Linked DNA regions of Homo sapiens: all the other regions are linked to region 1. Evidence: fine-mapped expression QTL. A gene starts in region 1. Each other region holds a variant in brackets. All regions are shown on one strand. Distances are between the middles of the regions.

Evidence for each region. PIP is the estimated chance that this variant, and not a neighbour inherited with it, causes the effect.
Region 2: its variant is fine-mapped to the expression of CAND2 in skeletal muscle (FUSION, PIP 0.91).
Region 3: its variant is fine-mapped to the expression of CAND2 in lymphoblastoid cells (GEUVADIS, PIP 0.95).
Region 4: its variant is fine-mapped to the expression of CAND2 in amygdala (GTEx, PIP above 0.99).

What each region holds. Positions count from the first base shown.
Region 1 is chr3:12,793,313-12,801,416 of GRCh38, reverse strand. CAND2 (cullin associated and neddylation dissociated 2 (putative)) reads right to left here and starts at 4,737. Exons shown (of 15, transcript NM_001162499.2): 1 at 4,629-4,737. The coding sequence starts at 4,696.
Region 2 is chr3:12,712,976-12,721,079 of GRCh38, reverse strand. No RefSeq gene overlaps it. Among named protein-coding and RNA genes, the nearest start is that of TMEM40, 42 kb to the left of the region's middle. RefSeq lists an enhancer at 1,005-1,054. The variant A/T (reference allele first, on the strand shown) is at 3,744.
Region 3 is chr3:12,767,876-12,775,979 of GRCh38, reverse strand. It overlaps a transcript of TMEM40 not described here. Among named protein-coding and RNA genes, the nearest start is that of TMEM40, 13 kb to the right of the region's middle. The variant G/TG (reference allele first, on the strand shown) is at 3,470.
Region 4 is chr3:13,247,369-13,255,472 of GRCh38, reverse strand. It overlaps a transcript of IQSEC1 not described here. Among named protein-coding and RNA genes, the nearest start is that of NUP210, 170 kb to the left of the region's middle. RefSeq lists enhancers at 79-887, 888-1,697. The variant G/C (reference allele first, on the strand shown) is at 4,666.

The DNA.
Region 1 (8,104 bases):
TTGCAAACATGTTTTCAAAAATTTAAATTACTTGTCAACATTTGAACATTGGGAAAGTTGACACAAAAATACTGACTTTGGCCTGGCATGGCGGCTCACGCCTGTAATCCCAGCACTTTAGGAGGCTGAGGCGGGTGGATCACCTGAGGTCAAAAGTTCTAGATCAGCCTGGCCAATATGGTGAAACCCTGTCTCTATTAAAAATACAAAAATTAGCCGAGCGCGGTGGCAGACACCTGTAATCCTAGCTACTGGGAAGGCTGAGGCAGGTGAATCACTTGAACCCGGGAGGCAAAGGTTGCAGTGAGCTGAGATCGTGCCACTGCACTCCAGCCTGGGTAACAGTGCGAGTATCCATCTCAAAAAAAAAAAAAAAAAAAAATACTGATTTCCAGGCTGGGCGCAGCAGCTCACGCCTGCAATCCCAGCACTTTGGGAGGCCAAGGTCGCCAGATCACTTAAGGTCAGAAATTAGAGACCAGCCTGGCCAACAGGGGGAAACCCCATCTCTACTAAAAATACGAAAATTAGCCAGGTATGGTGGTGCACACCTGTAGTCCCAGCTACTTGGGAGGCTGAGGCAGGAGAATCACTTGAACCCAGGAGGCAGAGGTTGCAGTGAGCCAAGATCGTGCCACAGCACTCCAGCCTGGGTGACAGAGTGAGACTCAAAAAAAAACAAAAACAAAAACAAAAACAAAACACTGACTTCCAGATTATCTTGAAAACAGAATATTTGAGTACAACGGGGCCTACAATCCCTGGTGACAATACCTGATTAGAATCAGGTTGTGGCTGCCCTCTCCCCAGTTCACCTGGTCCCCACTAGGCCCACTTCACCCACTGACTGGCTCCTGCAGGCATGTGAGAGCGGAGTCTCAGGAGAAAACAGGACAGAGCAGCGAGGAGATACTGTAAGGCTGCCTCGGAGAAAGCCTCCAGCTTTTACTGACCCTGCTGGGCCACTCTACCACCCCACGCTGGCCCTGCTTTCCAGCATGGTTGAGCAAATCAACCAAGAGCCCTGACCCCCGCCTCCTGTGGCAAAATCTATCACAGTTGGGATTCTGGCTCTCATCTGTGCAGACTCAGACCTGCTCCTAGATGTCACTGCAGCCCACAGTGCCCTGTTACCAGGGGTGGACTGGTCGATGACCTATTTATTTTTAACAGGTAGATTAGCCACAAGTTGCTAGGAGAGAGAAGGAGGCTGGGCTGGCAGCATGGGCAGGATGGCAGGACTGACTGTGCCCACCTCTGGGCAAAGGTAAAGTGAAGGAGGAGGTTTGGATTTGAGCCAGGCCAAGGCCTGAGGTGAGCACATGCACCCCTACGTCTGCTCAGCTGAGGGGACATTCTGAGATGGCACCCAGGGTCTCCAAGTTGTGTTTCTGCTGCAGTCCATGGGGGCCCAGCTCAGCCTGGCAACCCAGGCGATGTGCCTCTTTGCCCAAGATAGGCCTTCTATCCCCGCTCTTCTTCTTCATCTGTTGAGCTCCTCCTATTCACCCATCAAGAGCCCAGCTCAAATGTCCCAGCTCAAGGATGACTGACCTCCCTGCCCTACCCCTGCATCCACAGCCCCTAAGCACAATGGTTCCCTGGACAAGATCCTTTCAGAGCACTCTGCACCCCTCCTTTATAGCACTTCTCACACTGCAATACAAGTCTGGCCACCAGAGCATCTTCTCCATTGGACTGTACACTCACTGAGGGCAGAGGCTCATCAGGTTTATCTCTGGGACTCCAGGCTCAACAAAGAACAGGTCTGCAGAGGGCTTTGTCAGGGAGGGTGAGAGCAGGAGGAGAGGTAGTGAGAGAGCTAGCCCTTAACAGAACTTACAGCCAAATAGTCCGAATTCAGAAACCAACTCTTCTGAAGTATGCCTCAGCATTTCAGACACCCCTGGTTCCTGCAGACACTAGCTCTCGGAGAAAGCAAGCCATGTTTTATACGTGTATGTGTGTAGGGATGGGAGAGAGAAGGAAAAGTATATAATTTGGTGGATAAGAGCTTGAGCACCAAAGTTTGGCTTTAAGTGAGTATACTTACTAGTCTTGCCATTTATCAACTAGGTGACATTGGGCAACTACCTCCTTTTCTCTGGGCCTCAGATTTTCTATATATAAAATGGGAACTTTTCTTTGCCCTACCTCATAGTATCCTTGGGAGGTTTCAATAGGACAATCTAGCTCTTAGCATGAGGTAGTAAGAAAACTAGGCTCAGGGAGGCTGCACAAACTGCCTACGGTAACAGCAAACTGGGCGGAAAACCAGCCCACCACACAGGTCTCCTGGCTTTTCAACCAATAATACTACTGTGTTTTCAAGAAATGACTTGGTAATTCCTGCAAGACCTGCAAGGGTACTCGTTTTGACTGCTGGAGCCTCCGTGGTAATGGGGCACCTCCTGCCCATAAAGCCAGGGCCCAGGAAGAACAGGAAACAAAGGTCTCCCTCCACCCCACCTGGGACCCCCATTTGCAGTCGCTGCCCCGCTCCAGGAACCAGAGGACAGTCTCAGTTTCATTACAGAGAAACCCTAGAGGCAACTCAGCTGAAACCCTTGGCCACACGGACGCCTGGACAGCTGGTCTGCAGGACCCAGCACCCTGGTATTCGGACTTTAAAAATAGACACCATTCTCACATGCTTGGGGTGGTTTTAAGTGTTCTCCAGGCCACTGGCAGAGACAGGCTGAAAGGGCTTCTCGGGCTGTAGCTGGCAGGGCCAACTCCCTCTCCCAGAGACTGGACCAGAGGCCTGAGAGACACTAGCGCAAATCCCCTAGGCCACTAGCCAGCTCTGTGACCTTGGGCAAGTCACTGCACTCCTCCAAGCCTCCGGAAAACAGGAAGAACAATCACTACCACCCATGGGTGGACTGAGATTACACGTGGGGTGCACAGTAGGGAGCCTGGGACCCAGCGAACATTCACTAAGCACCTACCGTGTACTCAGCACAGGTGTTGGGGCACTAAGAGGAAGTGCATAGTCCCAGTGGCCCAGGAGCTCAGGGTCTCCCAGGGCTGAAAAGTGATCTAGCAGAAACATGAGGGGAGGCATGATGGGAGCTGAAAGGAGGTACCTAATCCTGCCTGGGGTCAAGAGTTATAGGAGCTGTCAGATGAAGGGAGGAGGTCAAGGGAGAGCAAAGAATCCCCCTAGTGAAGGTCTAGAGAGGGGACAGGGCGTGGCAGATTTTGGATGTGCACAGAATCATAACAGTGTCCGTTTATGAAGCACCGACCTAGTGCCTGCCATGAACCTGAGCATTTCACATGTACTATCTTATTTAATCCTTACCCCAACCCTCAGAGATGGGTTCTGTTATCCCCATTTTATAGAAACAGAAGCACAGGGAGACTCATGGGGGTTAAGTTACTTGTCCATGGTCACACGGCCAGTGAGTGACGGCAGCTGGGATCTGAAGCCAAGACCTTGGATCCCAGGCTCTATTAATGTGGGGGGGCTCTTGAGGGGTACTGAGGAATGGGCTGCAGGAGAAGAGTAGGAGTCAGACCACCAGAGCAGGTCTGTCTCCTCACCTGTCAGGGGGCTGGAATCAGAGGACCTCACTAAGATCTTGGCCTCTGTATTAGACTGGCCTGGATTTGGACTAAGTCTCCCACTTCCTCGCTGTGACTGAACCTACGCCCTTCATGTCTCTGAGACTCAGTTTCCCTATCTGTAAAATGGGGACAAAGTGAAAAAATGTTCATTGAGTCTCCAAGGTCTTCTTTCAGCTGGAGGGGCCAGAACTGGCCATGAGACCACGGGCCAATCCCTTTTCCTCCCTGGGCCTCAGTTTCCCCAGGGAATGCAGGTGGAAACTCATTGGACCAGATGTTTCCACCGTTCTTTTCAGCTCTATTCCTGTGGTTCTGTGATGCTGTGAGAGGGGGAAAGAAGGAAAAAGGGAGTGGGGAAGGAGAGTGGCACACAAAACCTAGAAGGTCCCACCCCAACCATCACCTACCTGTGACTGGAAAGCCAGACTCAGCCCAGCCCCCTCCTTTAGGCTGGGTCTGAACAATCGCAGGAGGGGAGGGAGACGGGGAGGGAGGGGTCCGGGTGATGTTGAGAAGGAGGCATCACTGAGGGTGCCAGTGAGAAAGTCAGCTGGGGGTTGCGGTCCCGGGAAGGGTCCGGGTTCAATGCGGAGGAGAGGCAGGTGCTGGGGTCCCCAGGGAGAGGCGTAGGGCTTCACTGTGGGCTCGCTGAAGGTGGTGGGGGCGGGGGGGAGGGGGCGCTGGGGCATCAGCTGCGGGGGAAGAAGGGGGCCGGACACACACGAGGGAGGAGAGGCCGAGGCAGGGTGCAGAGGGGTGGAGCCGGGGCTCTGATCGGGGGTGAGAGGTAGGGCTGAAGCCTGCACGGTGGGAGACGAAGCAGGGACTGGAGTCGCGGAGGGGCAGGACGGCCCCTAGGGGAGAACGGCCGGAGCTCCAGTGGGGACCACGAGGCAGGAGTGGGCCTGTGGGGAGGGGGGCAGCTTAATGCAGGGAGAAGAGAGAAGAGGCAGGGGGCTGCATGGTCATGGGGGATGGGCTGGCGCTTCGAGAGGGGAAGAAGGCCCCCGGCTTCAGAGCGGGAAGGAGAGAAGGGGGCCGGCGGCGGGCTGCACCTGAAGTCCTTGTCGCTGGACGTCATCTTCTCCAGGAGGCTGGAGATGTGGAAGGCGGCGGTGCTCATGGTGGCTGCGCGCCGCGGAGCCGGCCGGCGGGAGGGAATATGGCGGCGCGGGCGCCCCCTCCCTCGCCAGCTGCGCGGGCTGCGCTCACCAGACAGAAATAGCAGCTCCCGCCCCGCCCCGTGCTCACGCCTTGGCCGTGGCGGCCGCGGGAGGCGGGCGGGCCTGGGCCTGGCTTGGTGGTCTTGGCCCCGGCCCCAGCCCTTGCCCTGCTGACAGCGCAGCGCCGGATTGCACACACCCCCAGAGACGGGGAGCTCACTACCCTGCCACCACCTCCTTGTTATTCCCGTAGGTGCCAGCTCTGTCTTGCGGCATGGACGTAATATCATAGAGTCTCAGGTTCGAATCCCACTTCTGCCTCTTCTGCTGTGTAGCCTTGGCCAAGTTACTTTACCTCCGCTTTCTCATCTGTAGGCATTCAAGAAACAGGAGCTATCAACCAAAGCTGGTCAGGCCAACCAAAAGACCCCTCACCCACGATGCTTGCCCGCCCCTGAGCCAGACAGGATCTGGGGAATGAACTGAGTCACACAAGGCCCCCTGCCTCGCATCCCCAACCCTCAGGACGGCAGGGTCAGTTTCTTCATTTTTTTAGCAATGCAACTGAGGCCGAGAAGCAAAGGGATTTGCTGAGGGTCACACAGCCAATGAATCTGGGATGGAGTCAGGATTGACTGCAGATCCCTTAATATCCTGCGCAGCAATCCTTCCATAAACAGCCAGGAGGCTGCTGGATGGGAAAGGGAGTAGTGTGTGCTTCAGAGCCAGACAAGCCTGGCTTCAAATCTCTGCTAGGCTCCTTCCTGGCTGTGTGACCTTGGGATAATGAAACAACCTCTCTGGGCTATGTTTTTCTCACTCATAAGATAAGGATAAAAGAAATCTTTATTCACTTGGGAGGCCGAGGCGGGCGGATCACGAGGTCAGGAGATCACGACCATCCTGGCTAACACAGTGAAACCCCGTCTCTACTAAAAATACAAAAAAATTAGCCGGGTGTGGTGGCAGGCGCCTGTAGTCCCAGCTACTCGGGAGGCTGAGGCAGGAGAATGGCGTGAACCCGGGAGGCGGAGCTTGCAGTGAGCGGAGATCGCGCCACTGCACTCCAGCCTGGGCGACAGAGCGAGACTCCGTCTCAAAAAAAAAAAAAAAATCTTTATTAAATTGACACCCCCCTTGAACACCTGTTATTATGAGGTACGTAGGTTCTAGACCAAAGCTAATAGAACACTGCAATGTTGAAAATGTTCTACATCTTCAGTATAGTATCTAATATGATAGCCACTAGCCACATGTGGCTATTGAGCACTTGAAATGGAATTAGTGTGACTGGGGAACCAAATTCTTAATTATATTTATTTTTCATTAACTTAACTTTAAATAGCCCACTATGGGTAGTGGCTATCATAATGGACAGTGCAGATCTGTACAACAAGGATGCAACGCAGCAGGGTGTTAGACACAAACGGCCCCTGCCCCCTGGGGACTTTACATTTTAGTGTAGGAAATCAGCAAGAAGGAAGAAAGTGATTAGATAAGGAAAATAAGAGCTCTTCAGAAAATAAAATAGAGAGTTCCTGGAGCGTGGAGGGGCAACTTCAGCAAAGGTCAGGGAGGGCACTTTTTGAGGAGGAGACATTTGGGCTAAGACCTCAACAGATGAAGCAGCTGGGCAAAGTTTTGAGGGAAGGGCTTCCCAGACAGAGGGAGCAGCAGGTGCAAAGGTCCCGAGGTGGTGGCCGGGTGCGGTGGCTCACACCTGTAATCCCAGCACTTTGGGAGGCCGAGGCAGGAGGATCACGAGGTCAGGAAATCGAGACCATCCTGGCTAACACGATGAAACCCCGTCTCTACTAAAAATACAAAAAAATTAGCCGGGCGTGGTGGCGGGCACCTGTAGTCCCAGCTACTCAGGAGGCTGAGGCAGGAGAATGGCGTGAACCCGGGAGGCAGAGTTCGCAGTGAGACGAGATCGCGCCACTGCACTCCAGCCTGGCGACAGAGCAAGATTCTGCCTCAAAAAAAAAAAAAAAAAAAAAGGTCTCAAGGTGGGAACCAGCCTGATGTGTTTAAGAAAATGCTGTGGCTGGGCCGGGCACGGTGGCTCACGCCTGTAATCCCAGCACTTTGGGAGGCTGAGGCGGGTGGATCACAAGGTCAGGAAATCGAGACCATCCTGGCTAACAAGGTGAAACCCCGTCTCTACTAAAAATACAAAAATTAGCCGGGCGTGATGGTGGGCGCCTGTAATCCCAGCTACTCGGGAGGCTGAGGCAAGAGAATGGCGTGAACCCGGGAGGCGGAGCTTGCAGTGAGCCAAGATGGCACCACTGCACTCCAGCCTGGGAAACAGAGCGAGACTCCATCTCAAAAAAAAGGAAAGAAAGAAAGAAAGAAAAGAAAAGGCTGTGGCTGGCTGGGCGCAGTGGCTCATGCCTGTAATCCCAGCATTTTGGGAGGTTGAGGTGGGTGGATCACATAAGCTCAGGAGTTAAAGACCAGCCTGGGCAACATGGTGAAACCCTGTCTCTACAAAAAATGCAAAAATCAGCCGGGTGTGATGGCACACGCCTGTAGTCCCAGCTACTTGGGGGGCTGAGGTGGAAGAATCTCTTGAACCTGGGAGGCAGAGGTGAGCCTGGGAGGCAGAGGTTGCAGTAAGCTGTGATCGCACCACTGCACTCCAGCCTGGGTGACAAAGTAGACCCTGTTTCAAAAAAAAGGAGGGGAGGAAGGGAGGAAGGGAGGGAGGGAGAGAGGGAGGGCGGGCTATGGCTGGAATGGAATGAGATCAGTCTTCCACTGAGGAAATGAGGACAGAGAGGTGGACAGGGGCCAGATTACTTGAAACCTTTCAGGCCAAGGCAAGGAGTTCGTATTTTATATGGGAACACTAATTTTATGTGGGAACACTAACGCCAGGGAACACTGGATGGCGTAAAGCAAGAAGGTAACTTGATCAGTTTTTGTTGTTGTTTTTGAGACAGAGTATCCCTCTGTTGCCCAGTCTGGAGTGCAGTTGTGTGATCTCGGCTCACTGCAACCTCTGCCTCCCAGGTTCAAGCAGTTCTCCTGCCCCAGCCTCCCGAGTAGCTGGGACTACAGGCACCCGCCGCCACACACGGCAAAATTTTGTATTTTTAGTAGAGATGGGGTTTCACCATGTTGGCCAGGATAGTCTTGAACTCCTGACCTCAGGTGATCCACCCGCCTCAGCCTACCGAAGTGCTGGGATTACAGGTGTGAGCCACTGCGCCCAGCCAGATCAGTTTATTTTATTTTATTTATTTAATTAATTCAGTTATTTATTGAGATGGAATCTTGCTCTGTTGCCCAAGCTGGAGTGCAGTGGTGCAATCTCAGCTCACTGCAACCCCCACCTCCCAGGCTCAAGTAATTCTCCTGCC
Region 2 (8,104 bases), 80 kb after region 1:
CTCTAGTGGAGGAAGATGGAGGTAAGAAAAATGTGTCAGAGGGTGCTAAGTGCTATGTAAGAAGAGGGGGCTGGGCACAGTGGCTCACGCCTGTAATCCCAGCACTTTGAGAGGCCGAGGAAGGTGGATCACCTGAGGTCAGGAGTTTGAGACCAGCCTGGCCAACACGGTGAAACCCTGTCTCTACTAAAACTACAATAATTAGGTGGGCATGGTGGTGGGTGGCTGTAATTCCAGCTACTTGAAAGGCTGAGGCAGGAGAATCGCTTGAACCCAGGAGGTGGAAGTTGCAGTGAGCACTCCAGCCTGGGTGACAAGAGTGAAACTCAGTGTCAAAAAAAAAAAAAAAAAAAAAAAAGCAGGGGACAGGGAGTGCTGGGGAAGTGCTCACTGAAAAGATGACGTTGGGCAAAGGAAGTGAAGGACTAGCTATGCGGCTGTCTGGAGGAAAAGTGTTTCAGGCAGAAGGAATAGCAAGTACGAAGCCCCTGAGGCAGAAACAAGCAGGGCAAATTGGAGGAGCAGCCAGAAAACAAAGAAAATAAAATATTAAAAAAGGATACATACATACAGGTAATAAAACTGTAAGGAAAGTGAAAAGATAAACACCTGCTGGGGAGAAGGAGGGAGAGAAGCAGGGCCAGTGTCTAATGCGCTGGCAATGCTTTGTTTTTGTAGGTGGTGGTTACACAATAGATACACAATATCTATTTTCCAAGCTGTATGTATATCCTAGATACTTTTCTGTATGTTATATTTCACAATAAAGACGATTTAAATCATGTGTTAGTCTTTACTGTTTGCTCAACTGTGGGTGCTATTACAGGGCATAGACACAAGAGGGGGCGCTAACCAATGAGCAGCGGCAAAGCAGTGTTTCCTAGCAACGGGGAAAACGTTGAAGCAGAAACTTCCTTCAGAGTGGTTAACTGATGGATTCTGGCTGCTGCCCCTGACAGGTCGGCCAGAGTCCACTTCGCACCCTGGAGGCGTCTCTGCAGGGTCTGGAGTGTCACTGACTTTTGTGGGGAGTAGAGCTCTTCTCCCAAATGCGAAATCGGGTCTGCAGAACACGAGAGGTTGCTCCCTTGTGCCGCGGAGCTTTCTTCTCCTGCCAATGTTAGATAATAACGACGTCCTCATTAACAGATGCCATTATTAATATCATTAGTAACAGAGGGCTCTTATCCGTAAGACTCCAAACAAGTCGTAGTGTTTCCCTCGAAAAACGGAGGAAATTAAAGAATGGAAAGGAGGGACCTTGCCTCCAGCCTTCTAAGACCTCAGGTCTTCTAAGACCTCAGGTCTCTCTCTCTCTCTGTCTGTCTCTCTCTCTGTCTCTGTCTCTCTCTGTCTCTCTCTCTCTCCTCTCTCCTCTCTCCTTCTCCTCTGTCTCTCACTCCTCTCTCTCCTCTCTCTCTCCTCTGTCTCTCACTCCTCTCTCTCTGTCTCATACGCACACAAAGAGAGAGAGGTTTTTCAAGATTTGGGATGCGGTGGAAGTTTTCAAGATTGCTGGCCGGTCATGGTGGCTCACATCTGTAATCCCAGTATTTTGGGAGGCCGAGGGCAGATCACCTGAGGTCAGGAATTCAAGACCAGCCGGGCCAACATGGCAAAACCCCGTCTCTACTAAAAATACAAAAATTAGCTGGGCGTGGTGGTGCGCGCCTATAATCCCAGCTACTCTCAGAAGGCTGAGGCAGGAGAATCACTTGAACCCGGGAGGTGGAGGTTGAAGTGAGCCAAGATCATGCCGCTGAACTCCAGCATGGGTGACAAAGTGAGACCCCGTTTCAAAAGGGGAAAAAAAAAAGATTATTGACAAAGCAGAAGGTTTTATGATACACAGGTAAATATTAGGTAAATTTGAGGCTGAGTGGGATTATGGTAATGAATACCTACACTGTTAAAAGAAGTTACCCCAGACTTTATCTCACTTGACTTTACAATCACTTTGGTACCACTCCATTTTGGAGATGAAGAAACTGAGGCTTAGAGAGGTTAAACTGTGAGCATGCCAGAGCTTTCCTCCCAATCCAATTTACTAAAGAAGAAGTATTAACTAGCTTTTTTTTTTTTTTTTTTTTGAGGCGGAGTCTCGCTCTGTCGCTCAGGCTGGAGTGCAGTGGCGCTATCTCGGCTCACTGCAAGCTCCACCTCCCGGGTTCACGCCATTCTCCTGCCTCAGCCTCCCGAGTAGCTGGGACTACAGGTGCCCGCCACCGCGTCCGGCTAATTTTTTGCATTTTTAGTAGAGACAGGGTTTCACCGTGTTACCCAGGATGGTCTCGATCTCCTGACCTCGTGATCCACCCGCCTCGGCCTCCCAAAGTGCTGGGATTACAGGCGTGAGCCACCGCGCCCGGCCTTAACTAGCTTATTTTTAAGGGGTGGGGGAAGCTGTTAATTGTCTCTCATGCCTGTAATCCAGGACTTTGGGAGGCTGAGGCAGGCAGATCATGAGATCAGGAGTTCAAGACCAGCCTGGGGCCGGGCGCGGTGGCTCATGCCTGTAATCCCAGCATTTTGGGAGGCCGAGGCGGGTGGATCACGAGGTCAGGAGATCAAGACCATCCTGGCGAATACGGTGAAACCCCGTCTCTACTAAAAATACAAAAAATTAGCCGGGCAAGGTGGCGCACGCCTGTAGTCCCAGCTACTCGGGAGGCTGAGGCAGGAGAATGGCGTGAACCCGGGAGGCGGAGCTTGCAGTGAGCAGAGATCGTGCCATTGCACTCCAGCCTGGGCCACAGAGCAAGACTCCGTCTCAAAAAAAAAAAAAAAAAAAAAAAAAAAAAAAAGACCAGCCTGGCCAACATAGTGAAACCCCATCTCTACTAAAAATACAAAAATTAGCCGGGCGTGGTGGCTGGCACCTGTAGTCCCAGCTACTTGGGGGGCTGAGGGAACCCGGGAGGTGTAGGTTGCAGTGAGCTGAGATCGTGCCACTGCACTTCAGCCTGGGCGACACAGCGAGACTCTGTCTCAAAAAAAAAAAAAAATTGTCTCTCATAACCAAAGAAAGTTAAAACAATGGAGAGGTAGTTTATTTTCTCATTAAAATAGCAAAACTATTTTCAATCATAATACCTCACACTAGGAAGGCCTAGTGGAAACTGGCAGTCTTGTACGACGCTAACGGCAGCATAAACCAGTAGCCACTCATCGGGAGAGCAGTCTGGCAACACCCAGCAGAAGCCATAAAAATGTTCCTACCCTTTGATCCAGCAACCCAGGTTCTGGGAATCTATCCTAAGGACATAATTTGAAATTTAGGAAAAGGTGTATGTGCAAATATTGGTGGCAGCATTATTTATGTTGGTGAAAAATTGGAAACAACTAAGGGAAATGGGTGATCAAGGGCACAACTCTATTAAGTAACCTGAATGTCTCCTTTTTAAAAAAATGATGACTGCAAAAATTTTGAAAATTACCTGGGTGTGGCTGGGCATGGTGGCTCACGCCTATAATCCCAATACTTTGGGAGGCTGAAGTGGGTGGATCACTTAAGGTCAGGAGTTCAAGACCAGCCTTGGTAACATGGCCAAACCCTGTCTCTACAAAAAATATAAAAAAAAAATTAGCTGGGTGTGGTGATGCATGCCAGTAGTCGCAGCTACTCCAGAGGCTGAGATGGGAGGATTACTTGCACCCAGGAGTTCAAGGCTGCAGTGAACTGTGATCCTGCCACTGCAACTTCGGCCTGGGTGACAGAATGAGACTTGTCTTCTAAAAACAAA[A/T]AAAAAAATATATATATATACACACACACACACACATACACATATATATACATATATACACTTATATACATATATACACATATATACATATATACACATATACACATATATACATATATACACATATACACATATATATACATATATATACACACATATATATCTTATTCTGAAGACTGTGACATCATGGGAAATGCTGCTGTGTAATGTTTTTTAAAGTTTAGCTAGACTTCCCTCATACAGGAATGCCGTGCAATACTAAATGAAAACAAAAGCAGCTACAAAATAACAGGGATATCAATCAACCTCATAAGTACATACCATTCCATTCATGTGGGGAGAAAGCTAAGGCAGGAGAAGAAACTATGTTGGGGAGATAAGAATGCTTTTTTTTCTCTTGTTTTTTGTTTGTTTTCATAACTTTTTTCTCCCCTTTCACTTCTACTCGGGATCTTCTTCCTTCTTCCTTCTTGTTTCTTCTTCTTTTCTTTTTTTTTTTTTTTTTAGATAGGATCTTGCTCTGTCATCCAGGCTCCAGTGCCTCTGCCCAGTCACAGCAAACTGCAGCCTCAACCTCCTGGGTTCAAGCAAACCTCAGCATCCCAGGTAGCCAAGACTAAAGACACAGGCCACCAGACCAAGCTTTTATTTTGAAATGGGATTTCACTATGTTCCTCAGGCTGGTTTCAAACTTCCGGTTTCAAAAAATCCTCCCACCTCAGCCTCCCAAAGAGTTGGGATTACAGGTGTGAGCCACTGTGCCTGGCCTACTTTTTCTTCTTTTCAAAATAAAATTTTAGTAGGTATTTCTTATATCAGTTGGTAATGTAATCTTACTCCAGGAAAGCCAGGAAATATAAGAATATTAAGTCCAGGCACAGCGGCTCACAACTATAATCCCAGAACTTTAGGAGGCTGAAGCAGAAGATTGCTTGAGCCCAGGAGTTTGAGACCAGCCTGAGCAATATAGCAAGACTCCATCGCCACAAAAATCTTTAAAATTGCTAGGCACAGTGGTACCCACCTATAGTCCTAGCTATTTGGGAAGCTGAGGTGGGAAAATGATTTGAGTCCGGAAGTTGGAGGCCCCAGTGAGCTGTGATTGCACCATTGCACTCCAGCCAGGATGACAGAGAGAGACTGTCTCTAAAACATATGTATTAATATATTCATACTCTCACTCATAAACAACTTCTAGTAACAGTGGTTAGAGCAGTGATTCCCAAACTTGAATGCACTTGAGAGGCCTAGGTGGGCGGATCACTTGAGCCCAGGAGTTTGAGATCAACATAGGCAACATGGTGAAATCCTATCTCTACAAAAAATGGGCCGGGCGCCATGGTTCATGCCTGTAATCCCAGTACATTGGGAGGCCAAGGTGGGCAGATCACGAGGTCAGGAGTTCAAGACCAGCCTGGCCAACATGGTGAACTCCCATCTCTACTAAAAATACAAAAATTAGCTGGGCATGCTAGTGTGTGCCTGTAGTCCCAGCTACTTGGGAGGCTGAGGTGAGAGAATCCACCTGAGCCTGGGAAGTTGAGGGTACAGTGAGTCATGATTGCACCACTGCACTCCAGCCTGGGTGACAGAGCAAGACTTTGTCTCAAAAAAAAACCAACCAAACAAAAATAATCCAGATGTCTGTGTCCCACCCTGGAATTTCTGATTCAGTAGATGTGGGATGGGGCCCAAGAATTTACATTTTTTGACAAGTTTTCAAATGACACTGACGCTGCCAGTCCCTGGGCCACACTTTGAGAACCACCACCTTAACGTATAGTCTTATCAAATCTTTCTGTATGTCACACATGTAGATTCTTCACCAAAAAAAATGATGGACATTTAGACTGTTTTTCCAAGAGCCTTCTTTTACCTAAATATCTGGTGCATTCTTAATTATCTGAATAGCTAAGAATTTTTTTTTTTTTTTCTTTGGGACGGAGTCTCGCTCTGTCACCCAGGCTGGAGTGCAGTGGTGCGATCTGGGCTCACTGCAAGCTCTGCTTCCCAGGTTCATGCCATTCTCCTGCCTCAGCCTCCCAAGTAGCTGGGACAACAGGCTCCCACCACCACGCCCGGCTAATTTTTTGTATTTTTAGTAGAGACAGGGTTTCACTGCATTAGCCAGGATGGTCTCAATCTCCTGACCTCGTGATCCGCCTGCCTCGGCCGCCCAAAGTGTGGGGATTACAGGCATGAGCCACTGCGCCCGGCCCTGACTAACCAAGATTATCATAATCATTAATTTACTCTAAATTACTAAAGTTATTAGGATTAAGTTTCCATTTTCAGAAATGGAATTGTTGGATCAATAGACATGCATGTTTTTCAAGCTTCAATATGTATCATCAAATCGCTACCATAGAATCTTTTTTTTTTTTGAGACAGGAGTGCAGTGGTGTGATCTCAGCTCACCACAACCTCTGCCTCCCAGGCTCAAGTGATTCTCCTGCCTCGGCCTCCTGAGTAGCTGGGATTACAGGCGTCCATCAGGTCTGCCCAGTCAATTTTTATATTTTTAGTAGAGATGGGGTTTCATCATGTTGGCGAGGCTGGTCTCAAACTCCTGACCTCAAATAATCCACCCACCTCGGCCTCCCAAAGTGCTAGGATTACAGGCGTGAGCCACTGCACCTGGCTTATAGAATCTAATATTTACCATACACCATGTAAGTACATCATCTCATTTAATCTTCAAAATTCATTTATTCATTCATTCAGCATATATTCTTTGAATGCTACTTTGTGCCACATATTTTAGGGACTCAGAGATGAGCGAGACATAGCAACCCTCTGAGGTAGATACTATTATTATTCAGATAATTATTATTCAGATAAATTATAAAATAATTATAATAATAAAATATACAAATATATATTATATATTATATAATTATTATTCAGATATTATTATTATTCAGATAAAGAAACTGAGATCCAGGCCAGGCATGGTGGCTCACATCTGTAATCCCAGCACTTTGGGGGGCCGAGGCAGGTGGATCGCTTGAGCTCAGGAGTTTGAGACCACCCAGGGCAACATGATGAAACCCCGTCTTTACTAACAATACAAAAAAATTTACCGGGTGTGGTGGTGCACACCTCTAGTCCCAGCTACTTGGGAGGCTGAGGCAGGAGAATCGCTTGAGCCCCAGAGGCAAAGATCGCAGTGAGTCGAGATCACGCCACTGCACTCCAGCTTGGGCTACAGAGTGCGGCTCCATCTCAAGAAAAAAAAAACAACTGAGATCCATGAGGTGACTTGCCTAAGGACACACAGAGAGCCATTCCTTGCACTGCTTCATTTGCACAAAGTTGATCCTCTGGCTCTCAACAGCCTCATGCTGCTTTGCTCCATATGGAAAGGGATATTTTAGTTTTGGGTGGCAACTTTTTTTCCTCTTTCTTTTTCCATTACAATTCTGGAAAAATTAAATGAGGAAACATCCTGGCATATAGTTTAGGAAATACAGTTTGTCTGAAAGCTGCCAGGAATAAAAACTAACACTTTCTCCACTGAGTTTTATCTCCCACTTTTTTTTTTTTTTTTTTTTTTTTTTTTTGAGACAGGGTCTCGCTGTGTCTCCCAGGCTGGAGTGCAGTGGTACGATCACAGCTCACTGCAGCCTTGACCTTCTGGGCTCAAGTGATCCTCCCACCTCAGCCTCCCAAGTAGCTGAGACTACAGGTATGTGCCATCATGCCTGGCTAATTTTTTTGTATGTTTTGTAGAAATGGGGTTTTGCTTTGTTGCCCAGGCTGGTCTCTAACTCCTGGGCTCAAACGATCCTCCCACCTCAGCCTTCCAAAGTGCTGAGATTACAGTCATAAGCCACTGTGCCCAGCATTATCTCCCACTTTTAATAAATTAGGCAGAATTGGCCCCTTTTGATCTGAAAATTAGACTTGTTAATAACATTTCTAACAAAAAACATGATGGAGTTTTATGGACATGTAGCAATTTAGTCATCTCTTTTTCAGTTTCCTAAATTAACTCTAATTACAATTATTGGCTGGGTAGCTTAGTGATTAAGTAAAAAGCTTGTGAGTCAAACAGATTTGACAAAAAAAAGTTTTACAATAAATATTTGTAAAACTCTCTAAACTTCAGTTTCTTTGTCTGTAAAATGCAGCTGAAACTACTTCTTCATTGAATTCTCTAGAAGATCTCAAAGATTCAGGGGTCGTGGTCACCATCTACCCCCCATTTAATTCACTAAACTGACTCCTGCAAGAATTGAATGGATCCTGGAGGATGATGGAGGACTACTGCAAACTCAGCCAAATAGTAATTGTGATATGGTTTGGCTGTGTCCCCACCCAAATCTCATTTTGAACTGTAGCTCCCATAATTCCCATGT
Region 3 (8,104 bases), 25 kb after region 1:
AACCATATCACTCCCTTTTCCTATGTCTCCTCTGTCTCACCTTCAATTTCCCTTCCTGCTGTTTTTTCTGTCTCCATAGCTGACTGAGAAATCTCTTTTGGCTGTAAGAGAGTTAGTAGTAGGAAGAAGTGGGGTTTTAAGAGCAGAGTCCCTGCATTCAAGTTCTGGCCTCACTACTTCGCCCTTTGTTGTTAAATGCAATAGCACTTACCCTCCCTGCCACCTAGCACCTGGTACAGTGCCTGGCACAGTGTAGATGCTCGAGCAATGGACTGAACTGAGAGAAGTGGTGAGGAGCAAGGAAGACAAGAAAGCTATGGCTGTGACAGTGTTTTGTAGAATTTGGGAATAAAGATTCATTTCCATCATCTCCCACCCCTACAGTGAGGGGCAGGGCTGGCTCACTCCCAGAGCCTCCAGCTGATAGGTATCCTGCAGGTGTCTGAAGGTGGGTTTGGCTAACAAACCATCCTCCTCATTTATACTGGCCCATGGTCAGGGCTTCAGGTGTTGCCTGCAGAGAAGTCCCCCAGATGCAGCCCCTTGCTCCAGAAGTCAATCTGCTTGGCCCTGTGGGGGGACCAGGCTGCTCCTTCTGGGCCCCACTTCTTCTGCCTGGGTCTCGGCAGAGGCTTCTGTCCATGGCCTGGTGCTGTGTGTGTGACACCCCAGCCCACCTCAGCAGGATGCTGGAAGAATTCTTTAACCCCTCCTGGAGAACTGAAAAGAACATTTGCTGAGCACTGTCAGATGCCTTCCCTCAAGGGACAAGGGGTTTCTCCATTTGCCCTACAAAGAAACCGAAACTCATGGAGGTTATGTGATTTTGTGAAGGTCACACAGCCAGAGCCAGAGCTCAAAATGGGGTCTCTCAGCTCCCAGCTTAGGGCTATTTATAAAACTGAGCCACTTCTCTTTGGGATGGAGAAAGACGTTTGTAGCTTGAAGTGAACAAGGTGGAACTCTCATTCCATCGCACCTTTTGGGAGTGAATGAGGCAGGCAAGTTGCTGGGGGAGGGTGGCAGGCTCCCCAGACTGGGAGGGAAGTCGAGTCAGAGTGGTGAGTGTTTCTTCAAGCATTTACCAAGGAGCCAGCCATTCGCTAGGCACAGGGGGAGCTAGAGGCAAGCTGGTTAGAAATGTGGTTAAGAACAACTGCTTTGTGGGAAGACAGAGCTGCGTTTCAGTCCCCTCTTGCTGTGTGATTTTGGGCAAGTGACTCAATCTCTCTGAGCCTCAGTTTTCATCTCTATAGAGTAGAAATTATAGCACCTACCTCATGAGGTAAAGCTCTTGGGAGAAAAGCTGGCACAGGGCAAGCTGCTGTGAATGGTAGCTGTTAGTTATTTCTATTACTGTTATGCCCGGTAGGGGAGACATTAACTGACCAACAATTACCGCCCAGTGCGATGTGTGCCACGGCTGAGGGAAGAATCATGGAGACGGTGATGGCTAATTTGATGTGTCAACTTGACTAGGCTAAGAGCTGCCCAGATTGCTGGTAAAACATTATTTCTGGTGTGTCTGTTTCCAGAAGAGATCAGCATTTAAAGCAGTAGACTGAGTAAAGAAATCTGCCCTCACCAGTGCAGGTAAGTATCTTTCAATGTGCTGAGGGTCTAACAGAACCAAAAGGTGGAGGAAGGGCAAATTTGCTGCCTGTGCTTGAGCTGGGACACCCACCTTCCCTTGCCCTCTGATGTCAGAGCTCCTGGTACTGGAACTTACACTACTGACTTTCCTGGACCCCCAGCTTGCAGATGGAGGATTATGGAACTTCTCAGCCTTCATAACTGTGGAGCTAATCCCTCACAATAAATCTCTTCCGGTACATCTACATAAAGTCTATTGGTTCTGTTTCTGTTGGAACCTTGACTAATACAGGGACACAGAAGAGGGAAGGGGGAGAGGGGACTCATGAGCCAAGCCTTGAGGAGCAGTTGCCTTCTCCAGGTATAGAAGTGGATAGGAGTCCCGCCACACATGCTTGCATGTGCACATCCTCAGGCTCCTGTCATTGGGTGGGTGGGACAAATGGTCCTGTGACATCTGCCTGGGCTTGAGCTCAGCTCAAACCACTCAGAAGAGTTACTGCCCAGAGTTCTTGGGAGAATTCCAAGGCTGAAGGCACTGTCTCCTTCCAACAGAGATGAGCCCATTCCAAACACTTAGGGCTTGGGTCTCAAGATGATCTCAAGAGCCTTCTCCTTTATCTTCTCTCCTTCCTCCTGCTCCTTTTCTTCCTTCTGAAAGGGGCCCAAGAATCCCATAGACAGTTGTTTTTGGATAAACATAGAAATTGACCATTCTGCTGTTAAAGATTGAAACTTACATTTGTTTTATCTGAGTTCCTTCCTCAGGAAAGGACCTTCAGGCCTCTCACAAAAAGTATCAAAGAACTGAAACCAGGTGACTGAACTAGGTGCCTGACCCCTCATTCACCATGATTGCCTCCTTGCCCCTCCCAAGTTCCTGTTTTCTTACACATTGTTACATTTCTTGCCTGCTATACCAACCGCTGGTTTTAGTCAGTCAGGAAAATAGATTTGAGACTGAGCTTCCATCTCCTCAGCTGTAGCACTTGATTAAAGGCTTCTTCCTTGGCAATACTTGTCTCAGTAATTGATTTCTGTGCAGCAAGCAGCAGGACCTAGACCAAACCCCTGGTATTTTGGTAACACTTCCTTCTTCCCTCTCCCCTCCTCTTTTATTCCTTCCTCCCCTCTTACCTCTCTCCCTCCTTCCCTCTCTCCCTTCCTCCTTCCTCTCTCCCTCTCTCTCTCCTTCCCTCCCTCCCTTTACTTCTTCCCTCCCTTCCTGTATTTGTCATAAAGGTCAACAACCCCCTCTTATTTATTGCCAGAGACTGTTGAACCCTCCTAAAGAAGTGAACTATATTGGTAGATCCGACAACTCTAGAAAGGAATCACCAGGCCCAAAAGAAATCACAACCGGAGATTCCATAACATTTATAGCAAGGAGTGTCCTGGTGTCCAGTCACTAAATGCTTTCATTCTGGGTTTAAACAAAGATATGGAATACACAGTCCAGACATTTCTGAAAACAGTACTGCCTCTCTAATGCCATGGAACATGGATCCAGTGAGGTACTGCATCCTTGGAAACTTTTATTAAGGAAATTTTGATATATACCCAGTTAGACAATAATATAGCAAATCACCCAGCTTCCACTGTTACCAACATTAGCCAATCTTGCTTCGTCTCTCCCTCTTCCACATTTTTCTGCTGCTCAAGTGCTTCAAAACAAATCCCAGACACAAGTAATCACTTCAGCCCCCATTGCCAATGTATGACTTTGTTTGTTTTGAGATGAAATCTCACTCTATCACCCAGGCTGGAGTACAGTGGCACAATCTCGGCTCACTGCAACCTCTGCCTGCCAGGTTTAAGTGATTCTTGTGCCTCAGCCTCCCCAGTAACTGGAACCACAGGCGTGCTCCACCACACC[G/TG]GCTAATTTTTGTATTTTTAGTAGAAACGGGGTTTCACCATGTTGGCCAGCCTGGTCTTGAACTCCTGACCTAAGGTGATCTGCCCACCTTGGCCTCTCAAAGTGCTGGGATTATAGGCATGAGCCACCATGCCCAGCCTGTTTTTTACATACCACCATGCCATTTTCATACGTAACAAAAATAAAAATAATTCCTTAAATAACTCAATGCCCTATATTCAGTGTTCAGATTGTGTCAAAGCTGTCTATTTGCAATTTGTTTGTAAGATGAGTATTCACAAAATTTCCTGAATTTCCCCCTCCTTCCTGTCCCTGGCCCATCTCAGCCCCAGGCAGGACAGAGGACTGTCTGCCTCCTGTCTCTGTTTTAGAGTAGCCTTGGCCCCACTCGAGTCAGGCCTCCTATAGTGCAGCTCTTGTCTGAGTGTTCCTGCTTAAACCTCTCCAGGGATTCTCCAGGATTTCTCTCAACAACGAAGCTCCCAAACTTCATTCATTCACATACCACTTCCAGAACATTTGCCACATCTATAACCACTTGTATTATTTATTACATATTTTAATATTTAAGGTTTTTGTTTGTTTGTTTGTTTTGAGACAGAGTCTCACTCTATCACCCAGGCTGGAGTGCAGTGGTGTGATCTCGGCTCGCTGCAACCTCCACCTCCCAGGTTCAAGTGATTCTCCTGCCTCAGCCTCCTGAGTAGCTGGGGAGCATGCACCACCATGCCCAGCTAATTTTTGTATTTTTACTAGAGACAGAGTTTCAACATGTTGGCCAGGCTGGTCTCAAACTCCTGACCTCAGGTAATCCACCTGCCTCGGCCTCCCAAAGTGCTGGGATTACAGGTGTGAGCCAGTGCACCCAGGAATATTTAAGGTTTTAAAATTACTTTATTGTAGGGACCAGCCCCACAGGGTTGGTGGGTTTCACCCCGTGTGTGGAGACGAGAGAGTGTAGAAGTAAAGACACAAGACAAAGAGACAAAAGAAAAGACAGCTGGGCCCAGGGAACCACTACCACCAAGTCACGGAGACTGGTAGTGGCCCCAAATGCCGGGCTGCGCTGTTATTTATTGGATACAAGACAAAAGGGGCAGGGTAAAGAGTGTAAGTCATCTCCAATGGTAGGTAAAGCCACGTGGGTCACGTGTCCACCAGACAGGGGGCCCTTCCCTGCCTGGCAGCCAAGGCAGAGAGAGAGAGAGAGAGACGGAGAGAGAGAGACAGCTTACGCCATTATTTCTGCATATCAGAGACTTTTAGTACTTTCACTAATTTTGCTACTGCTATCTAGAAGGCAGAGCCAGGTGTACAGGATGGAACATGAAGGCGGATTAGGAGCATGACCACTGAAGCACAGCATCACAGAGAGATGGTTAGGCCTCCGGATAACTGCGGGCGAGCCTGACTAATGTCAGGCCCTCCACAAGAAGTGGAGGAGTAGAGGCTTCTCTAAACTACCCCAGGGAAAGGGAGACTCCCTTTCCCGGTCTGCTAAGCATCATGTGTTCTTCCTTGACACTTACGCTACCGCTAGACCATGGTCCGCCTGGCAACGGGCGTTTTCCCAGATGCTGGTATTACCGCTAGACCAAGGAGCCCTTCTGGTGGTCCTGTCTGGGCATAACAGAAGGCTCGCACTCTTGTCTTCTGGTCACTCCTCACTGTGTCCCCTCAGCTCCTATCTCTGTATGGCCTGGTTTTTCCTAGGTTATGATTATAGAGCAAGGATTATTATAATATTGGAATAAAGAGTAATTGCTACAAACTAATGATTAATGATATTCATATATAATCATATCTAAGATCTATATCTAGTATAACTATTCTTGTTTTATATTTTATTATACTGGAACAGCTCATGTCCTTGGTCTCTTGCCTCGGCACCTGGGTGGCTTGCCGCCCACACATTATAACTTTTTAACTCACATCTTAAAAAAATTTTTCTTTTTTAATAATAATTACTATTTCATCTTCAACTTTTATTTTAAGTTCAGGGGTACATGTGCAGGATGTGCAGGTTTGTTACATAGGTAAACGTGTGCCATGGTGGTTTGCTGCGCAGATCATCCCATCACCCAGGTATTAAGCCCAGCATCCATTAGCTATTCTTCCTGATGTTCTCCCTCTCCCTGCCAACAAGCGAAATAATTTATTTTTAAAGGAAACTTTATGTTACTACCCAAGACAGAAACCCAGTATTATCTGCCGTAAATTGAAAATAACTATTAAAAAAGACAAAATACCAGGAAAGTGGAACAAGGTTATTATTACATTCTAATTAGATAGCATTGTCTGCTGAAAATTAGAGTGTGTCTCCACAGAGATACATTCTAATACTTTATTAAAAGTGAGCATGGGCTCAAAATGGGCAAGGCATGTTAAAAACACATTAACAGTACACAGAGACTTTCTCCTAGATGTAATAAGTCACCAATATGCAGTTTAAGTGAGCTAAGTTAATGTAACAACCCAATAAGGTAGGTACGATTGCTATCCCCATTTTATGGATGAGGAAACCAGAGCTCAGAGAGGTTAAGTAACTTTCTTGAGGTCAAACAGCTGGTAAGTCACAGTCAGGATCCAAATCCATGCTGTCTGGTTCCAGAGTCATAAACACCATGTTATTCTTAATCAGAAGGGCCCAGACACGTTGAAAATGGAACTTGTTTCTGATTATGTGATTCAGTATTATTGGTGCTAGCTATGATTATCTCCTGAACCACCAGGAATTAGAGGGGCTGACTTGGGGACACCCACTCCTATGGAGTAACCTCTAAGTCCCTTTCATAACCAACTCCTCTCGCCTCAGCTTCCCATCTCAGCTGGGACTGCAGGTACACACCACCACTCCAGGCTAATGTTTTTTGAATTTTTTGTAGAGGCAGGGTCTTGCTATGTTGCCCAGGATGGTCTTGAACTCTTGGCCAGAATCAATCCTTTTGCCTTGGCCTCCCAAAGTGTTGGGATTACAGGTGTGAGCCCCTGCACCCTGTCCCAGCCTCATTTTATTACCCCTCCACTCACCTCCTGCTCCAGAAGGTGGAGCCTTTTTAACTTGTTTAACTAAGGGTGGCTCCTGTTGAGAGGTGACAGCGTGTTGGCAGCCCTCGCAGCCCTCGCTTGCTCTTGGTGCCTCCTCAGCCTCGGCGCCCACTCTGGCCGCACTTGAGGAGCCCTTCAGCCCGCTGCTGCACTGTGGGAGTCCCTTCCTGGGATGGCCGAGGCCGGAGCCGGCTCCCTCAGCCTTCCGGGAGGTATGGAGAGAAAGGCACGGGCGGGAACCGGGGCTGCACGCAGCACTTGAGGGCCGGCTACAGTTCCGGGTGGGCTTGGGCTTGGTAGGCCCCGCACTTGGAGAGGCCCCGCCAGTCCCGGGCAGTGAGGGGCTTAGCACCCGGGACAGCAGCTGTGGAGGGTGCGCCGGGTACCCCAGCAATGCCAGCCTACTGGCGCTGCACTCGATTTCTCGCAGGGCCTTAGCTGCCTCCCTGAGAGGCAGGGATCAGGACCTGCAGTGCGCCTTGCCTGTGCCTCGCCAGGCCGCGCCCCCCCGCCCCCCCCGCCCCCCCCGCCCCGCCCCGGCCCCGGCCCCGGCCCGCCCTGCCCCGCCCCGCCCCGCCATGGGCTCCTGCAGGGCCGAGCCTCCCCAATGAGCGCTGCCCCCTGCTCCACGGCGCCCGGTCCCATCGACCGCCCAAGGGCTGAGGACTGTGGGAGCACTGCGCGGGACTGGCAGGCAGCTCCACCTGCGGCCCCCGGTGCGGGATCCACTGGGTGAAGCCAGCTGGGCTCGTGAGTCTAGTGTGGACTTGGAGAACCTTTATGTCTAGCTAAGGGATTGTAAATAACACCAATCAGCACTCTGTATCTAGCTCAGGTTTGTAAACACACCAATCAGCACCCTGTGTCTAGCTCAGGGTTTGTGGATGCACCAGTCGGCACTCTGTATCTAGCTAATCTGGTGGGGACTTGGAGAATCTTTATGTCTAGCTAAGGGATTGTGAATACACCAATCGGCACTCTGTGTCTAGCTCAGGGATTGTAAATGCACCAATCAGCACCCTGTCAAAACGGACCAATCGGCTCTCTGTAAAATGACCAATCAGCAGGATGTGAGTGGGGCCACATAAGAGAATAAAAGCAGGCTGCCCCAGCCAGCAGTGGTAACCCGCTGGGGTCACCTTTCACACTGTGGAAGCTTTGTTGTTTTGCTCTTTGGGTCCACGCTGGCTTTATGTAGTTGTAACACTCACCACGAAGGTCTGCAGGCTCACTTCTGAGGCCAGCATAGACCACGAACCCACTGGGAGGAACGAACAACTCCAGACGCGTCGCCTTAAGAGCTATAACACTCACCGCGAAGGTCTGCAGCTTCATTCCTGAGCCAGCGAGACCGTGAACCCACCAGAAGGAAGAAACTCCGAACACGCCGCCTTTAAGAACTGTAACACTGCGAGGGTCTGTGGCTTCATTCTTGAAGTCAGTGAGACCAAGAACCCACCAATTCCAGACACACTGTGGTCTCTGGCTGAGGGGCAATGATGGTCCTTAGTGTTCCATTCTGCTCTTGAGTCCGTAACTATGACACTTCCACAAGTTTTGCTTCCTGGACAAGCTATAAGGGGTGTG
Region 4 (8,104 bases), 450 kb before region 1:
GACTGGGTTGATGCAGCCATTTGAATCTGGGCACATATTCTACTCTTCCAATACAAGCATAGGCCCTGCGTGTGGGAGCCCCAGCCCCATCCATAGCAATACACCTGTTGCCCCAGGTTGGAGAGGGCCCTTCAGGTGTCCTCAGGATCAGGGGACAGACCTCCGTCTCACAAGGCAGAGCCGTCCTCAGGAACCCCTGGCTGCAGCACCGAAGCCCAGTGTCCGGTCTGCCTCTTTTAGGGGAGAGAGGCAGTGGCTCCCCTCCCTTGGGCTGGGGTGCTGGGGGGTGGTCAGCCATGCGTGTTCTCTGTTAAAGCCCAGCTGGTTTGGAAAGAAAAGAACCTGTTCCTGGTTCCTTCTTGGGTACCAGAAAATTAGTTTTGAATTAACACAAAAGCAGCTTCTAGAGCTGCCTGACGTGGAGGTTGGTCTTCCAGACGTTCCTGCCAGTGCGTCCGCTCTGATTGTCGAGGGAGGTTGGGGGAGGGCTGTGTGGATGTGCCTTGTCGGATCTGGAGCTTTGTCAGGATGCTGGGGAAGCAGGAAGGCTGTGTGGATGCACAGAGACCGCATGGAGGCCCCGGGTCGCAGGTGGCTAACTCTGCGGCCTGGGAAAGCTGGGCAGCCCTGGGCCTCGGTTTCCTCATCTCTAATGTGGGGACAGGCAGGGCCGTCCAGGATTCTAAGCTGAGCTGTGGAGAGCCCTCCGGTGCAGGGCTCTGCCACCTGCTGCTCGCTGGGCAGTAGAGTGGTAGAACCTGGACTTGAGTCCATGGAGGAGGAGGGAGGAAAACGAGTAGGAAGCGCCAGGGAGCTGTGTCGTTGAAAGTGTTTGCCTGCGGTTTGGGCTTTACTCAAATGCCAAAGCCTGTCACCGAAGGGGGCTTGAGCTGGTTTTCCTGCAGCCGGTGCTGGCTGTGATGAAACCTTGCCTACTGCCCTTTTGCTCTTTGCAGCTCATCCCTCACTAACACCTTTGTGCAGGGGGGTTTGGACCAACCTCTGCTCAGAATGGTTTCAGGCACATCTTAGCCTTCCTGATCACCAGTTGGAGGTGTGGAGCAGGGAAGAGGGCTGGACATGGGGACTGATGGGCCGGGTGTGTTCATGGCGCCCTTGTGGCACTGCCATCAGGCCTCCGTGTCCAGCCTGGGCACCTCCTGGCCAGCGAGGCCTCAGGACCCCAGTGCGTCCCCAGGGTGTGGCCTAGCCATGGGGAGCGGGCTCGGTTCATGTTTGCTGAGTCTGCAATCAAACCAAGGCCAGGCTGCACGCCGATGTGGGTGGAGCATCTCATCTGGATCAGAAAACAAAGGGATAAAGCCAAAGTGAGGTCAGAGGGCAGCGTTGTGATGCCAGCCAGGACCTCCAGGTCAACGTGACGGCTGACTGTGGCCCGAAGTGCCCTCTGTCCTCAGATGCGACAGTGGAGGCAGGGCTTGTAGTTATGTGGAGGGGCTGCTGCCTGAGTGGCGCATCACCTGTTGGTCAGAAGCTGGGGCCCCAGTCAGGCATGTGCAGCTATTTCCAGCGGTGGAAACACAGCTTCCATCGGTGGCCTGTGTTCTTCACCCCGTCTTAATGGGGTTCTGCTTCTGGGGGCCCCGGGTATCAGAGCCATTTGACATAACCACCGAGGCACTTGGAAAAGCATGGGTGCTGGGTTACCTCTTCGTCAGATAAAACCGTGGCCTTTTGTCCTCCCTAATTTAGCTTTTGTCGCACAGCGGAGCTCCTCCTACATGCAGTAATCTTCCCAGAAAATGAGGCTGTTGATACTTCAAAAATAGAGTTGCTTAAGAGAATCATTCTGCTTAGTGCCCTTGTGTGCACTCACATTTTGCCTTTTAGAAATCAAATGCTGACTACCCCTTATCTAATATTTTGATGCATGGCGTTTTTAGGAAAATGGAGTTGAGTGTAGTTTTCTGTATGGCAGCGGGGAAATGAGTTGAAAGCAGAGTATTACCGAAGCTTCATTCAGCCTTGGTGTGAGCTCTTCCAACCCCCTGTCCAGTGTCACCGCACCACTCAATACCCGCCATCTTGGCTAAGCTGCCTCGGGTGGGGATGATTACTTCCGGGGAGGAATCTGCTGACCAGGGGGTGCCACACCCCTTCTCTGGGAACTCTTGCATTCTGGAGTCTGATACTCTGAGTTCAGATCCCGGCTCTGCCACTCATGGTATTAGCCTCTGTACCCTATGGCAAGTTACCAAGCCTCTCTCTGCCTCAGTGAAATGTTAAATCTATAAAACAGGGATAATAATGGTAACTATCCTATAGGGCTATTGGGGGTTTAAGTGAGTCAATATTTTCAAAGCACTTTAAAGACTTTCTTGTCCTGCTGAACATCATCAGGAGAAATCCAGTCAAAGCCACAGCGAGAAGCAACCTCACACCCACCAGGGTGGCTACTATCAAAAACGTAGATAATAAGGGACCGGGTGCGGTGGCTTACGCCTGTAGTCCCAGCACTTTGGGAGGCCGAGGCGGGCGGATCACGAGGTCAGGAGATCGAGACCATCCTGGCTAACAAGGTGAAACTCCGTCACTACTAAAAATATAAAAAATTGGCCGGGAGTGGTGGCGGGTGCCTGTGGTCCCAGCTACTCGGGAGGCTGAGGCAGGAGAATGGCGTGAACCCGGGAAGCGGAGCTGGCAGTGAGCTGAGATTGTGCCACTCTACTCCAGCCTGGGTGACAGAGCAAGACTCCGTCTCAAAACAAACAAACAAACAAAAACAAAAAAAAACATAGATAATAAGAAGTCTGTTGGTGAAGTTGTGGAGAAATTGGAACCCTTGTGCCTTGCTGGTGGGAATGTAAATGGTGCCGCCACTGTGGAAACGTTGTGGTGGTTCCTCAAAAAATTAAACATAGACTCACCATTGCATCCCGCAATCCCACTTGTGGGCATATGCCCAAAAGAATTGAACGCGGGGCGTCGAAGAGATACTCGCACACCCACATTCATAGCAGTGTTATTCACAGCAGCCAAAAGATGGAAGCAACCCCAGTGTCTAACCACAGATAAACCGATTCACAAACTGTGGTCTATGCACACAGTGGAATATGGTTGAGCCTTAAAAACAAAGGACATTCTGACACATGCTACAGTGTGGATGAATCTCGAGGGCAGGTGCCAGATGACATGAGCTGCTCACAAAAGGGCAGATCCATACGATCCCCTTATAAAGAGTGTCCTGGAGTAGTCACATTTGTAGAGACAGAAAGTGGAAGGATGGACGCCAGGGGCTGAGGGGAGGGGGATTGGTGAGTTCGTGTTTAATGGGGGCAGAGTTTCAATTTGGGAGGATGAAAAAGTCCTGGAGATGGATGGTAGTGATGGCTGCACAGCACTATGAATGTACTTAGTCCACTGAACTGTACACTTGAAAATGAGTAAGATGATACGTTTTGTGTTGTGTGTAGTTTACCACAATAAAAAATCGGGGAAAAACAGTATGTGGGGCATAGTGAGCACTGGGCTCTGGGTTTGCTCTGCTGCTGCTACTGTTGTACTTATTAAGCTTTCAGCTACATGAGGTCAGAAACTCATTTCTTTGGCTTTGTAGTCTCAGCACTCAGCACCCAGGAGGTACCTTTGTGGAACCTCCTGCCTGGCCTCTAATTCTGGCATGGGTATGTGCTTGTCACTCAATCCTCCTAGCTGGCTCAGCTGCCTTGGCTCGGTCCCTCCTGTCAGGAGTCTTCTTTTGGACATTGACTGTCTCATTAGAATATTGTTGAATGGAACAGAGTCTCATACCCCAGGTAGCGGGCAGTGACCTCTGCATGGTGCAGTCCTTGTCAGAACCTTTGTACCCCTTGGCCAGGCTCCAGCTCTGAGCTGGCATATTTCAGTCTTTTGGATGCCACTGTGTAAATACTGTGGTTTCCTTCTGGGTCCTCTTCTCAAGGTTTTCCTCTGCATCTTGCTGGTCGGGAATTGCAGCAACACTTAAAATATTCCTGAGTGTGAAGGTTCTTTCAGCAAACACTATTCATTTATTTATTCAATAAATATTTATTGAGCTTCTACTCTATGAGCCAGAACTGTTCCAGTTGCTGAGCAGTTACCACAGTGCACAATACAAGGAAATTCCTGTCTTCAGGGTTCTCATTTCAGTGAGGAAAGCCAGACAATAATGGTGGTAAATAGAGGTTATATGTAGTGTGTTTGATTGGAAATGTGCTTAGGAGAAAGATCGAGCTGGGGTGGGTAGGTGGTGTTGGCATGTTAGATGGAATGGAAGCAATGGCCTAAAGGAAGTGGGCAAGTGAGCTGTGTACACATCTGGGAAGAGCCAGCCTGGCCCAGGGCTCAGCCAGTGCAAAGGCCCAGAGGCCTGCAGGTGCCTGGCTTGTTGGGGGAATGGCAAGGAGGCTGGTGTGACTGAGGGGGAGCCGGGGGAGGGTAAGAGGAGGTGAGGACTCAGAAGTCAAGGAGCAGCAGTTCACACAGGGCCCTGGAGGACTCTGCCTTTACCCCCGGCAGGGAGCCTCTTCTGGACAGAGGAGGAGCGATGGGGACCTGGAGCCCTGGATGCTGCATGTGGCAGGGACTCAGGCATGTGGGTGCAGGGAGGGAGCCCAGAGAGGCCACTGCAATGATCCAGGCAAGTGATGACAGTGGCGGGACCAGAGGGGTGGCAGCAGGGGT[G/C]GGGGAAAGCTGGGTTCTGGATGTCCCTTGAAAGTGGGGCTGGCCAGGTGCGGTGGCTCATGCCTGCAATCCCAGCACTTTGGGAGGCCGAGGCGGGCAGATCACCTGAGGTCAGGAGTTTGAGATCAGCCTGGCCAACATGGCGAAACCGTGTCTCTACTAAAATAAAATAAAATAAAATAAAATAAAATAAAATAAAATAAATTATCTGGGTGAGGTGGAGGCGGGCGCCTGTAATCCCAGCTACTCGGAGGCTGAGGCAGGAGAATCATGTGAACCTGGGGGTGGAGGGTGGTGGTGGGGGGAGGTTGAAGTGAGCCAAGATCAAGCCACTGCACTCCAGCCTGGGTGACAGAGCAAGACTCTGTCTCAAAAAAAAAAAAAAAAGGAAAGTGGGGCTGATAGCACTCGCTGACAGTTGTCCATTAGACATCACCGTGGCACTGCTGGTCCCGCGGCTATTGCACCAGGTCCCCGCGTTTGTCCTAGCCTCTGTCATCCCACACAGGGTCGATGCTTCCTGTGTGTGCCGCTGAGCCTCAGCTATCTCGCTGTCTTGGCTCCCACCGCACCTGGAGGTTCCCCTGCATGGCTGGTTCAAACCCAGCTGGCCTTCGTTGAATCTGCAGAGCTTTTACTGTTTGCTGTGTCCCCTGAAAGCCTGTGACAAGCCCTAGAAAGGCTAAGAAGGTTATGTCATAACTGTGTCCTGCTCATGGAAACGTGGAGCCGTGCTGTGAGATGGTCACCATGGCAGCCACAAAAATGAGACCGCTCCACATCAAAGGCAAAATCTTAGAACCTCAGCTGCACAGGCAGCAATGGAGCTGACGGGCCCTCACCTCACAGGTGGGGAAACTGAGCCCAGGGAGGCTAATCACCAGCCCTTGGGCATCTGCGTGGTTAGTGGCAAAGTTGCCATGGAAACCTGTGGGGGTCTTCACATGGCTGAGTGCCTGGAATCAGTCCTGCCCCAAGAGGATGACGGCTGCAGCGTCTGCTCTGTTGGCGTCCTCCTCCTCTGTGCTTCCTTGGAGTCTGCTCCTGTGCTTGTGCCCATCCATCTCACCTTACGCTCCCCTTGACCCCGGCTCCCCCACCTCGTTTTTCAGAAGAGGAGACCGAGACCCAGAGAGATGGAGTGGTTTGCCTAGGGTCACACAGCAAGAGCTGGTATTCGAACCCAAGCTGGTATTCGAACTCCATAACAGCTCCGTATTGGTTCCTAATGTGACTGAAGTAAGGGAACATAAGCCGATGAGCATGACTGAGGGATAGAAATAGAATAAACTCTCTTCAGTGAAAGCATTTGAAGCCATAAGAAATTCCCCCAAAGGGCCAGGCAAGGTGGCTCACGCTTGTAATCTCAGCACTTTGGGAGGCCGAGGCAGGTAGATCACGAGGTCAGGAGATCGAGACCATCCTGGCTAACACGGTGAAACCCCATCTCTACTAAAAATACAAAAAAATTAGCCGGGCGTGCTGGCGGGTGCCTGTAGTCCCAGCTACTCAGGAGGCTAAGGCAGGAGAATGGCAAGAACCTAGGAGGCAGAGCTTGCAGTGAGCCGAGATCGCGCCACTGCACTCCAGCCTGGGTGACAGAGCAAGACTCCGTCTCAAAAAAAAAAAAAAAAAAAAAAGAAATTCCTTCCCCCAAAGGAAGTTTCCTTCTTTTCTATAATTGCGCATCAAAGTCCCACCCTTTGAGAGGTAGAGCTGAGACCCAACAAGGAATTCCAGTGATGAGAGACAGACTCTGCCCACAGTCTGAGTCAGGAGGTAGAGCCTCTCATAAGAGGGGAATTGAAGTCAGGAGCACGGACTGGGGCGAGAGTGTCTGGGTCCAATCCAGCTCTGCACTGATTAATTCTGTGACATTAGGCAAGTGACTTAACCTGTCTGTGCAGCTACGTGACCTCGGGCAAGTTACTCAATCTCTCTGTGCAGCTGTGTGACCTCTGGCAGGTGACTTAGCCTCTCTGTGCAGCTCTGTGACCTCAGGCAAGTTACTCAACCTCTCTGCACTCCAGTTTCCTCATCTATAACATGGATATAATAAAAATAGCCTGGTCTGTACGACGTGATTAGTAACTGTCAGCCACACCAGGTGCTATCCCAAGATTTATACTTACAGCACTTTATTTAACCTTCACATGACCTGTAAGGGGGCTACTTTTATTCTGAGAGTCACAAAGGGTACTGAGGGAGCAGGACTGCATGAGTGGTTTGGAGCTGCCAGGAATGGCCTCCTGGAGAAGGGGATGGTGTGGACAGGCCTTGGAGTGGGGAGAGGACCAGAGCCAAGGAAGGGGTTGGCATTCCACGTTCTCTCAGGGGAGACTGGGAGTAGGTTTTGAGGGTGAGCCCGATTGGAAACCAGAGGGACTCTAGTTTTCCCAGGACCTGGGCACAGGTGGGAGTCAGGTGGGAGGTGGGGATGAGGCCAGGAAGTCCAGAGCTCGGGGATCCTCAAGCACCAGCTGAGAGATTCCTTCTTTGTTGAGAGGCAGTGGTGTAGCCAGAACTGTCTATGAGGAAGATAAAGGGGAAAACCCCGGCTTCCTCCTGAACCCACGTAGATGCTGGATTTCCAGTGGCCTTGGGGACACAATAGGGGTCTGACCACTTGGAAAGAGCCCAGGTTTCCAAGCCCAGAGCTTGCCCTTCCTGCAGTCTGGGAGGTCTCAGAACCCAGCTTTGCAGCCCTCTGAGGGTGAATGGATGGGGGATGCCCCCAAACCTGGTGACTCCAGGGGAACCTTAAGAACCTGTAGGGGGCATTTTGACATCCAAACCTACACTCCCACGAGCTTGGACTTGACCACAGGCACAAGGCAGGAGAGGACTGTGAACAGTGGCCCACGGTCCTGGACAAAGAGCCCACTGGAACCCCAGGAAGACAGGCCCAGTAAGTGCGTCTCCTTAGGCCGTGGAGGCAGGGTTCCCACAGCGTGTCTGTGGGAAGATGGGGAACGTGCAGTGGGGAACAGTGCCTGCAATGCCTGTGTGCCCTGGGAGGTGGCTGGGGGGTGTCAACAGCCCAGAGGAAGTCCCCGGCCCTCCCTCCAGATCCAGATCCAGATGGAGACCATGAAACTCACTTATCAAATTTGCACTTGACTTGGAAGTGAGAAGGCGGCTGATGTGATGGCATCGAGACTGTAAGTGATTCTGATGCCCCTAACTGTAGGGCGAAGGCTCATGGAGTGAAAATTATGAGAGAGAAATTTCTGCTTCAGCTCCAGGCTGAAGAAAAGAAGGAGAGAGCCAAGTCCCAGCTTCTGGCGTGGAGCCTGACCATAGTGAGCTCTTTATCAGCCGAGGCAGGGTCAGTCCTTGTCCCAAGGGGGGCGATGAGGGAGGTGAGGCCACAGCAGCCGCAACATTCATCCAGGTGCTGCAGTGCACACCTCTGGCTGTCCCCGACAGAGCAGAGCCT